2 separate regions of the Homo sapiens genome follow, and region 1 is linked to region 2. The links come from fine-mapping of genetic effects on gene expression. A gene starts in region 2. The other region holds a variant in brackets. All regions are shown on one strand. Distances are between the middles of the regions. Region 1 overlaps GMDS-DT (GMDS divergent transcript). Region 2 holds the start of GMDS (GDP-mannose 4,6-dehydratase).

Region 1 (5,379 bases), 22 kb before region 2:
CTGCCCCTCATCTCTCAGGCTTGTCCTTGCTATAAGCTTCAGAGCAGGTGGACTGATCTCACCATGCCCTTTGCATGTCACTGTGACGTGGCCCAGGGCCCAGGCCTCTCCTGGACTCTGACCTGCATGCTTCCCCATACATCCTTCTATCTGACTTTATTTCTCCGTCTTTTAAGCTCTGGAAACCTTTCCCAAGTACCCTTGAGAATAGTGTTGTCCAAAGGAAATCTCTTACATTTCCTTTGTCTTATATATGACAGTCATATATATAATTTCAAATTATCCAGTAACCACATTTAAAAAGTAAAAAGAAACAGATAAAATTGCCTTAAATATATTTTAATTCAATATATTAAGAAATTATTATTTCAATATACAACCTGGCTGGGTACAGTGGCTCACATCTATAACCCTAGCACTTTAGGAGACTGAGGCAGGAGGATTACTTGAACCCAAGAGTTCAATACCAGCCTGGGCAACAAAGTTAGATCTCGTCTCTACAAAAAATAAAAAAATTAGTTGGGAGTGGTGGCACATACCTGTAGTCCTAGCTACTTGGGAGGCTGAGGCAGGAGGATCCCTTGAGCCCAGGAATTTGAGGTTGCAGTGAGCCATGATTGCACCACTGCACTCCAGCCAGCCTGTGCAACAGAGCGAGATGCTGTCTCAATAACAATAATTTCTATGGGTGGACTGAATGTTTATATCACCCCCAAATTCATAAGATCAAATCCTAACCCCCAATGTGATGGTCCATGGAGGTGGGGCCTTTGGGAGATTAGGTCATGAGAGTAGAAGCCTCATGAATGGGATTAATGCCTTTGTGAAAGGGACCCTAGAGAATTATCTGGCTGTCATTCCACCATGTGAGGATACAACTGGAAATCAGCAGTCTACAACTTGGAAGAGGCTTCTTATCAGATCCCATGATGCTGACTCCTTGAAACTGGACTTACAGCCTCCAAAGCTGTGAGAAAAAACATGTGTTGTTTAAGCCACCCAGTCTATGGCAATCTGTTATAGCAGCCTAAACTAAGTTGAGTGCAGTGGCTCAGTGCAGTGTCACGATCATACCTCACTGCAGTCTCACTTTCCTGAGTTCAAGTGATCCTCCTGCCTCAGCCTCCTGAGTAGTGGGGCCACAGGTATGCATCACCATGGCCAGCTAGTTTTTTTGATTTTTAGTAGAGATGGGGTATTGCTGTGTTGCTCAGGTTGGTCTCAAACTCCAGAGCTCAAGTGATCCTCCCACCTTGGCCTCCCAAAGTGCTGGGATTACAGGCCTGAGACACTGCACTCACCCAAGAAATTATTAATAAGACATTTTATATTCTTTTATTGGCCTGAAAATGCAGTGTGCATTTTATACTTCTGGCACATCCCAATTCAAATGAGCCACATTTTCAGTGCTCAGTAGCTGTATGTGCTGGTAGTTCCCACATGGGACCTCGGTGCTCTGAGTGTAGTCCAAAGACCAGCAGCAGCATCACCTGGGACCTTGTTAGAAATGCAGAGACACTGTATCTCAGAACTTAAAGTAAAATGGTAATAATTAAAAAAAAGAAATGCAGAGACCTGGGCTCCACCCAAGACCTGCGGAATCAGAATGTGCATTTTAACAGGACTCCCCAGGCGACATGGCTGCACATTAAAGTTTGAGACACTCTGGTCTGGAAGACACAGTCAGTCCTCGGTAGAATCCCTCACATCCTCCACTTTTTCCTGAACATCCCCATCACCTGCCTGGTCTTGCTGAAACCTGGCTCTGACCTGGGGCACTCCTGCCCCCCGCAGTTCTCTCCAGTGGTGCCTGTTTCCCTCTTCTTCCCCACTCCCAAGGCCCTCCTGGCTCTGTGTCCCATGCCAGCAGGTCGTACCACCCACTTGCTCTTGTGGTTGCTATCCTTGACTGACCCTAGTCACTGCTTGGCACTTCTAGTTCCTTGTCACTCCAACAAGACTTAGTGATTTCAGCATCTGGTGATCCATCCAGTGTCCTGGCCCCCTCAGTTCTCTCCCCACCTCCAAAAAGCTTGACTTCCATGATTATACCTTAGACATTCCCATTACGGAACACACACACACACACACACACACACACACACACACACCCCTCTACATCCTTGCCATAAACTCAGTTTCAAGTAACCACTCTCCAGCCACTATTTCCTATTTTCCTCCTCACTCCCTCAAGCACCTTGATGGTCTTTCTACCATTGCAGGACCCACAACACATTGATCCATCCTCCACCTCACTGTCCCTCACCCCTCATCTCGTTATTTCTCTCCTTGCCACGGTTATTCCATGCTTCATCCATACAAGCAATCTCTTCCATATACCCCCCTCCTCTCTCTTTTGGTCATACATCCTCACCAAAGTCACAGTCTTGGTTAAATCCAACTCTCTGCCTTCACCATGCAGTTGTACATAGCCCAAGAAAAGCTTGTAACTATTACTTTAAGTACAAGATGATTAACCAAGTTATACTTGAGTGTTGCCAGCCCATTTCCCCAGTCTGTTCTCTCTTCTACTCTCCTAGATGACTCTCACTCCCCTTCCTTAAACTCTCAACACCCCTCCCCCATCCTCACTCTTGGAACCAATGCGGTGGTTAATGTTAGGTGTTCACCTGATGGGGCTTAGGTTGGGGTTTCACCATGTTGACCAGGCTGGTCTCGAACTCCTGATCTTAAATGATCCACCCACCTCGGCCTCCCAAAGTTTTTGATCTTGAAATTTGTGATGAGCATGGAGTTAGAGTGAGAGAGGTAAGGGCCACTTTGAGTTTTACCTAGTTCCATCTCCTATTTTCCCATTGCCCCTCCAAGAGACAGAGTGCTCACACATCTCATCGACAATCTGTAGTGGTTCATATTATACACTTCTTTAGTAGCTCACTCTAGCAGCTCACCCAGCAGTAACAAGTAGTTATCACAGTGCCTGGTATACAGTGGACACTAATAAATATTTGCTGAGTGAAGGCTGAATAAATAAAACGTTCAATCAAAATGTAAATTTGTCTCTTTTGTCTTCCTTGAACTTTAGAAAAAAGGAAACTGCTCAGCATTTTTCTCAAAGCCCTTGATTAGACTTGAAGAGAACATTAAAGAAGGCTTTTCTCTTGACAAAATGACTTCTTAAAACTTTTAATAGG[G/A]GCACTTGTTTTTGCTTTTCATTTTTATAGGAATTCTGGTGACTAGTCTATATTTTATGCAAGGAGGAATACTGAATACAATAAGCTGTAAAAGGCTTCCAGGAATATAGAGTGAGGAAGAAGGAATAACATTCCTGACCTTGAATGTCATCATCTAAATTGATTAATTTTTAAGCTACCCCCATAAAATAAAACTAATAGAAGAACAGAATTATCTGTTTCTCATCAAGATTCAATTCAGTAGGCATTTGCTGAATATCTTTGCAATGTGTTCTGGGTGCGTTCAAAGAAGTAAAATGTACAGCTGGTAACTTTGGAGATGCTCTGTTTTTTCAACAGTGTGAATTAAGATGTCTTTTTTTTTTTTTTTTTTTTTTTGATTTGGCATAACCCAAGAAGGCTTTTTAAAGGAAACACTAATTTCTAGTGTTTACTTGCCTTAGAACTTTGAATCAAGAAGCAGAGAAAGGCAGTTAGGGAGGTGTGAAATGTTTTAACTGACCAAGAATTTCCTTTCTCTTTGAATGCTCTCTTTCCATTTTGCCATTTCACATTTTAAAATTTTTTATAAATACTATCAAAGGTTTATGCTGGATTCCAAAGAAGTTAATAGAAACTTTGAATACATAAATGGAATTCCCAGCATAGTTGAACGGAATGTATACTATTGTGAGTAAATGCTTTATAATTTTTTCCTTTTACTTATTCTCATTGCCATTATATGAATTCAATTGTATGACATTTTATAAATTCACCATTTATGTGATTTTTTTGGCAGGGATTTTTAAAAAGATAGGCAGCAGCTTTTTATAAGTTGCAAAAACCATTCTTAGATGCCACATTTAACCAGGAACACTTAAAAAATAAAAAGCATTTTAAAAATATCCATTTTTAATATTTTAGATGAGATTTATTTTTAGTTAATGTATTTTTAGTTAACTCAGCAATATTGTTTATTTGGAATCCTGTTACTTAAATGTACAAGCTTTCGCCCTGAGATGAGCTTTATGGATTTTCTCAGGATTGACTTGGAAGATATATAATAAGTATTAAGGGAAAGTTTCAGTAACGTTCTTAGTTAAGGATATCAATGAACAGTGGTAATAATGTTTGGTCCAATTTATGCCTTGATTGATTTAAATTCCTGATAACTAAAATGAGAAGGGAAACTTGGCTTAATTAGGAGGTATACTGTATTTTTTTAATGATCATAGATTTCACTATTGGAAGGGAACAAAAACGATAATTTTCTCCAGCACCCTAAGACCTTGCTCCCTGGGGGCCAGGGCTGTGTCTTTGTCTCTAGAGTTTGCTGAGATTCTGGAATGTGTGCTCAGGAAATAGAGTGAGAGAGGGGAGGCATATCTGCCCCATTTAATTGTGAAGCAATGGAGGACAAAGAAGTTTCCTGAGATTACATAACCATCAACAGTTACAATCCCAGATTTTCTGCATCCTCTTGTGGGACATGACAAGAAATAGATACCTGGTCTCTGCTCCTGATTCCTGACACAGAGTTCCAAAAACCTTTGTAACTGCCTGGATGATAGGAATGCTGGGAACATCTTTTTGTTATAATATTTGGTCTTAGTCCCCAGTTTCTAACACAAGAGCTTCTAAGACCCTTGGAATTTCTGGAGTGATGAATGTCCTTCTCTAATGAAATGACTCGGTATTGGGGGCCCTAGATAGCTTCAGGATGGGGTTTGGGGAATGGAGACCAAGGCATGATCAGAGGGATGGACTTCCTGCCTCCCCAACCTTCAGGGAGGGCAAAGGGGCTGGAGATTGAGTTAATCACCAATGGCTCATGCCCAAATAATAAAGTCTGAATAAAAACCATTAAATTTCTTATTCCTCTGCCCCTCACACCTCATCGTCTTACCACTACCATGCCCATCCCTTTGCCATCCTGAAATTCTTTTCCTTCTGGTTTTTAAGCCTAGCTAAAGTGACCTCTGACAGCACAGGATACTGAAAGAGAAAGATCAGGACTTCTATTTCCTCCTGTAGGCTGTGTCCTGTACTGTCTTGTGGGAAAGAAGTTGGCTTATAGCAGGATGAGTCAGAAATCGGGGACTGTTTCCTAACACTAGGTAGTCCCTATGCCTTCTCCTTGTCAGATGTGGTTTTGTTCACTATTAGGTTGATCCACTTTGAGTGTTCAGGAAATACCTAGTTCCATCAGTCCTAGTTTCCATTCATGGGGATGGGTGACTCCTGA
Region 2 (5,379 bases):
GTCATAAAATGATTCAATATCATATCCCTTTCAGATTATAGCCCCTTGAAGATTATTTCTCCTCTACTGCTATACCCTCAGCAGCTAGTATGTTTCTGGAGATTAGCCAAGTTTGTGAGTAAAGGTATCAGCATCAACAATTAGCTACCAAATGTATTTGCTTCTTCTGACATACCATGAAGTCACTGTATAGTATAGCCAGTGTCTGTCAGTTCAACCACCCGCTTGTTAACATCTTTCACTGGCCTCCTGGAGAAGGGTTACTCAGCCTCAGCACTATTGACATTTTGGGCTAGAAAAATCTTTGTTGTGGGAGCTTCCTGTGCACTGCAGATGGTGAGCAAAATACTTAACCTCTACTCATTAGATACCTATAGCACAACTCCATTTGTGACAATCAAAAATGCCTCCAGACATTGTCAAATGTCCCCTGGGGGCAAAATCACCCAGGGATGAGAACTGTGTTAGAGGAAAACACAACTGAGCCATCACCCTTAGAGCTTTCCACTACCGCTGGTCGCTTTACTTCTAGTTAATGTAATCTTCTTATGCTGCCCCAGACCCTGTGCTGACGTTGTTCAAGTTGCCCTAATGCTACTGGGAAAATGACAACAACCTCCACTACCAACCTCCTCCCTCCGAGCCCACAAACAGTTAAAAAAAAGAACCTCTTTTTCCCTCTAGCTGTCAATCATGGGTTGAATTTTGTCCCTCCCCCAATTAATATATTGATGTCTTAACTCTTAGTAGCTCAAAATGTGACTGTATTTGGAAATAAGGTCATTAAAGAGGGTCCTAATCAAATGTAACTGGTGTTCTTATAAGAACAGGAAGTTTGGACACAGACACACATACAGAGAGAACGCCATGTGAACATGAAGACAGCCAGCTACAAGAAAAGGAGAGAGGCCTCAGAAGAAATCAGCCCTTGATCCTAAACTTCCAGTCTCCAGAACTGTGAGGAAATAAATTTCTATCGTTTGTCACCCTATGGATGGTACGTTGCTGTAGCAGACCTACCACCTGTCTTCAGAAAAGTTCTCTAGAGAAATAGCCTTTATTCTTCAAGCTTCCTCTGACCTACCATTTCCCATCATTTTATAAATATTTTCAGGCCCTAATAATGTTGATTTTTTTTCCATTTTTCTTCTACTGTCACACACTTCTAGGGCAGGTGTTTGGTGGTGTGACAGGAAATTGACTGGTGTCAACTTCCAGTGTTTGTGTGATAGGAGGTCTCAAAACTACAGGATAAATGTGTCATATCTCCCATAAGTATCAGTTTTGCTCAGTGATTTTTTTTTTTTTTTTTTGAGATGGAGTTTTGCTCTTCTTGCCCAGGCTGGAACGCAATGGCAAGATCTCGGCTCACTGCAACCTCCTCCTCCCGGGTTCAAGCGATTCTTCTGCCTCAGCCTCCAGAGTAGCTGGGATTACAGGTGCCCACCACCACGCCTGGCTAATTTTTTGTATTTTTAGTAGAGACGGGTTTTCACCGTGTTGGCCAGGCTGGTCTTGAACTCCTGACCTCAGGTGATCCACCTGCCGCAGCTTCCCAAAGTGCTGGGATTACAGGCGTGAGCCACTGCGCCCGGCTTGCTCAGTGATTTTTTTAAGGAAAATGTTAAATAATTGGCTCATGCATTAATTTAAAGCGTATTTACATGAAAATGAGTATAGTTTTAGCATATTCCCGTATATTTCACAGACATTTCTAGCTTATAGCATGTTCCTCTCAATGGAAGTGTTCCCTCTCCTCAGCTTCAGGGTCTCTTCATCACTCAGAGGCACCATCAGATGTTTGTTGAGCCATTCTCCTCATAGAACGCAGAGGAGAGGCCAGGTGTGAAACCAGACCAGTCTATCTATAGCTAAGAAATATTCCTAACGGACCTCGAGGAGCGCGAGAGGGAGGTTTTAAATGTAATCCTGAGCTTTTCTGATTTTGGGGTTCCAGGTCTGCTATACATACTCTTGCACGTTATATTGGGCACAGCCCTAGTAACTCTGTGATTTGAAATGATGATCTGAAGTTATCGATTAGGGAGAGGAATGTGGACAGAGAAGCAGAGCAACGGAGACCGGGAAGTTTCCGTCTGTGTCCTGGATTGCAGCCAACTGCTTAGGCACACACACCTGCTGCCCTCCCGGCTCTGAGTCACCTCCTCTCCTCTCCCTGTCCAACGAGCAGCTGCCAAATGGCAGCCAAATCCAACAGATGTAAGCCGGGACCCCACCTGTGTTTGAATTACTTTCTTTGAAATCTGCCACGTCCAGGTTTATTGACCCGGGCAGTCTTTTCAACATTTCCTTATGCCGCATACGGGTGGGGCTAGGGACTTTCTTGTGCACTGGCAGTCCTCAGAAGAGAAAACTTTGAATTCAGCTATTTGGAACCTCGTTACTGGTTCCGAGCCTCAGGAAAGGCCAGAAGAGCGAGAGCCAGCCTAGTTAGTCACTCCCACATCTGTGACCCCCGTTTACGGGCCTTGTACGCTACTGCCCTTCAGGTACCATAAACCGGGCTTCTCAAAGGGCACTGCAACAGGTTTCCAGGAATTATTTATCAAAGTCCATGACCCCGGCCCTGTGACCCCTGGGTTTGAAAATTCAGACCTTCAGCCTAACGGAGAGGTCGGCTCAGCGTTCCTCCCAGCATCCTCGGGCGATATTAGGGTCCTGGGAGATTCGGGAGGCCACTGCGTCCAGGCCCCCCACGGCCAGCCAGGCGAGAGGCGGGACGCGAAGCCGCGGCCTCCTTCCTCTTCCCTGAGGCGGTGGCGGCGGCAGGCCCCGCCCCTCCCGCGCGGTGGCCGTCGGCGGAGGGGCGGGGCCTGCTACAGCGTCGCCGGCTGACGCGAATGACGCTGCGCCAGTCAGGCCGCAGCCCCGCTGCTTGGCCCGTCGGGCCCGCCTTGGCCGGCTCGGCCCGCCCCCGGCCCTCCCTGCACGGCCTCCCGTGCGCCCCTGTCAGACTGTGGCGGCCGGTCGCGCGGTGCGCTCTCCCTCCCTGCCCGCAGCCTGGAGAGGCGCTTCGTGCTGCACACCCCCGCGTTCCTGCCGGCACCGCGCCTGCCCTCTGCCGCGCTCCGCCCTGCCGCCGACCGCACGCCCGCCGCGGGACATGGCACACGCACCGGCACGCTGCCCCAGCGCCCGGGGCTCCGGGGACGGCGAGATGGGCAAGCCCAGGAACGTGGCGCTCATCACCGGTATCACAGGCCAGGTGAGTGCGGGGGCGGGGGCGCGCCGGCCGAGGCAGCCTGGGCACGCGTGCTCTCCCTACGCGCCGCTACTCGTGGGCTGCGGTCTCTCCAGGAACAGCCCTCTCGGCGTCCCGGAAGGGGTCTGCTGCCGGGAGGTGGGACGGAAGGTACGGTGCAGTTAGTGTGTTGCGTGTGGGGTGTGCGGGATACATCGAGCGCCTCTGGTCTTTCTCTGGGGGCTGTGAGCGTGTGTGCCGCGCGGGATGTCGCGCTCACACCCGGGCAGGACCGCCCGCTCTCACCTGCCCCTCAGGTGACCGCAGCGTCTCTTCCTCCAAGCCCATGTCGTGCTTCGCAGCTCCTAGTGCCGGAAAGGGAAAAGAACCGGTGATCAATGAACTTGCGGGTGAGGTCTTCTTGATGTGTCTCGGCTCAAGGGGCGCTTACCTGCTAACGTTTGGGAAGCAAGAAAAAGGGTGCTTTGCTGGTTTCGTCCCCTATCACCGGATTTCCAGATAGAAAAGAGAACATGAAAGAAAGTAATGCTGTGGAGTCACCTACTAGGACATGTTTAGGAAAAAGAACTTAAAAAACTTTTTAAAATCACGCCAACTTCTGAGATTCAGGTTGACACATTTGGAAGTGTATCCGAGGCACACTGGTCCAAAAGTGCGGCTAGTTCCATTTTCAAAGGAATAAGTTCGTCGAGTAAGGTAATCAAGAGGAGGTCTTCGGAATGTCTCAGGCTAAGCATGGCTGGTTTGTGAGGGTCGCCTCTTAGAGGTGTTGCAGTAGGTGGGATCCGACCGCTGTGTCTTACCAAGCTGTGCTGTTTTAGATTCAGTGGTCATGAAGTAATCGTGCCCACATATTGCTGTAGAAAGAATGTGATGTGTGTGCTCCTGGGTATCTCTGGGTGGTGGCCAATATAACACTGAGATAAAGGTGATAATGGCTAATACATATTGTGTCTATCATGTTCCAGTCGCTTGCCTAACATTAACTCATTTAGTTCTCATAACAAACTCTTTGAGGAGGTACTTTTATTATCTCTATATATGTGGAAACTGAGGCATGGGAGTTTGATTTGCCTGAGGTTAAACCGCTGGGAAGTGTCCAGTTGGTATTGAAACCACTCTCAAAGTTCTCTAGTGTTAGAAAGGGCTAAGTGGGCAGGAGGCAGCGGCTCATACTTGAAATCTCAGCACTTCGGTGTGCAGAGGTGGAAGGATTGCTCGAGGTGAGGCCAGGAGTTTGAGACCAGCCTGGGCAACATATTGAGACGTTGTCTCTACAAAAAAATTTAAAAAATGAGGCAGGCATGTTGGTGCTCACCTGTAGTGCTAGCTACTCAGGAGGCTGAGGCAGGAGGATCACTTGAGTCCGGGAGTCTGAGGCTGCTGCAGTGAGCAATGATGGTACCACTGTACTCCAGCCTGGGGCAAGAGAGTGAGATCCTGCCTCAAAAAAAAAAAAAAAAAAAAAAAAAAAAAAAAAGAAGGAGAAGTTGAAATTGGCCAGATGCACAGTCACAGAATATTACACAATTTCAAGTATTGAATACCTGATTTACTGCTGGTTATTCATGCATCTTGCTTTGCTTAAGGTAATCATAATAGACAAGAGTTTGAAAACTAGTAAGAGGTGGATCTGAGTTTGAAAACTAGTAAGAGGGCAAGGATCTGAGGTTGAGAAATTGAATCCTTGAATTGAGGCAGTAAGACAGGTCAGGGCCTACATACTGTCCTCCCCCTTCTCTTTGTTTTCTAATGCTGGGACCTTTCTGCAGATGATTCCCTTTTTTCCATTTTGTCAGACTGGACCTGAAGCTCAAATGTTTACCAAGTTTACCTAATCTCTGGAAAGTAGAGATTTTATTTTAGTATTGTCCGGAAATTAGTTAAGATTAACATCTTAACTAATGTGCTGTGTTGGTGTGGCCTATACCAATTTACACGACCAGCAGTATGAATCAGTGCAGATTAGAAATGGAACCTAATTTTGACTTTTAAGAGCAGTCATTTGGCTGGAACTGAGTGGCCAGGAAGGTATGGAAGTGGGCCCCCACTCTAGTTTGTCCTGCAGCCTGTCATGGGAGTCTACCTGAAGCACCACACTCAGCAGACCACTCCCTGACTGGAATTTTTTGGTTCCTCATTTCATTTCCAACTTA

What was found. PIP is the estimated chance that this variant, and not a neighbour inherited with it, causes the effect.
Region 1: its variant is the best candidate, but not a certain one, in a credible set for the expression of GMDS in whole blood (TOPMed, PIP 0.55).

The regions. Positions count from the first base shown.
Region 1 is chr6:2,264,960-2,270,338 of GRCh38, reverse strand. All of the region lies in intron 3 of GMDS-DT (GMDS divergent transcript), which reads right to left. Among named protein-coding and RNA genes, the nearest start is that of GMDS-DT, 22 kb to the right of the region's middle. The variant G/A (reference allele first, on the strand shown) is at 3,156.
Region 2 is chr6:2,243,168-2,248,546 of GRCh38, reverse strand. GMDS (GDP-mannose 4,6-dehydratase) reads left to right here and starts at 2,942. Exons shown (of 11, transcript NM_001500.4): 1 at 2,942-3,226. The coding sequence starts at 3,125. GMDS-DT (GMDS divergent transcript) reads right to left here and starts at 2,794. Exons shown (of 7, transcript NR_046229.1): 1 at 2,617-2,794. RefSeq lists a silencer at 2,670-3,299 and an enhancer at 2,800-3,300.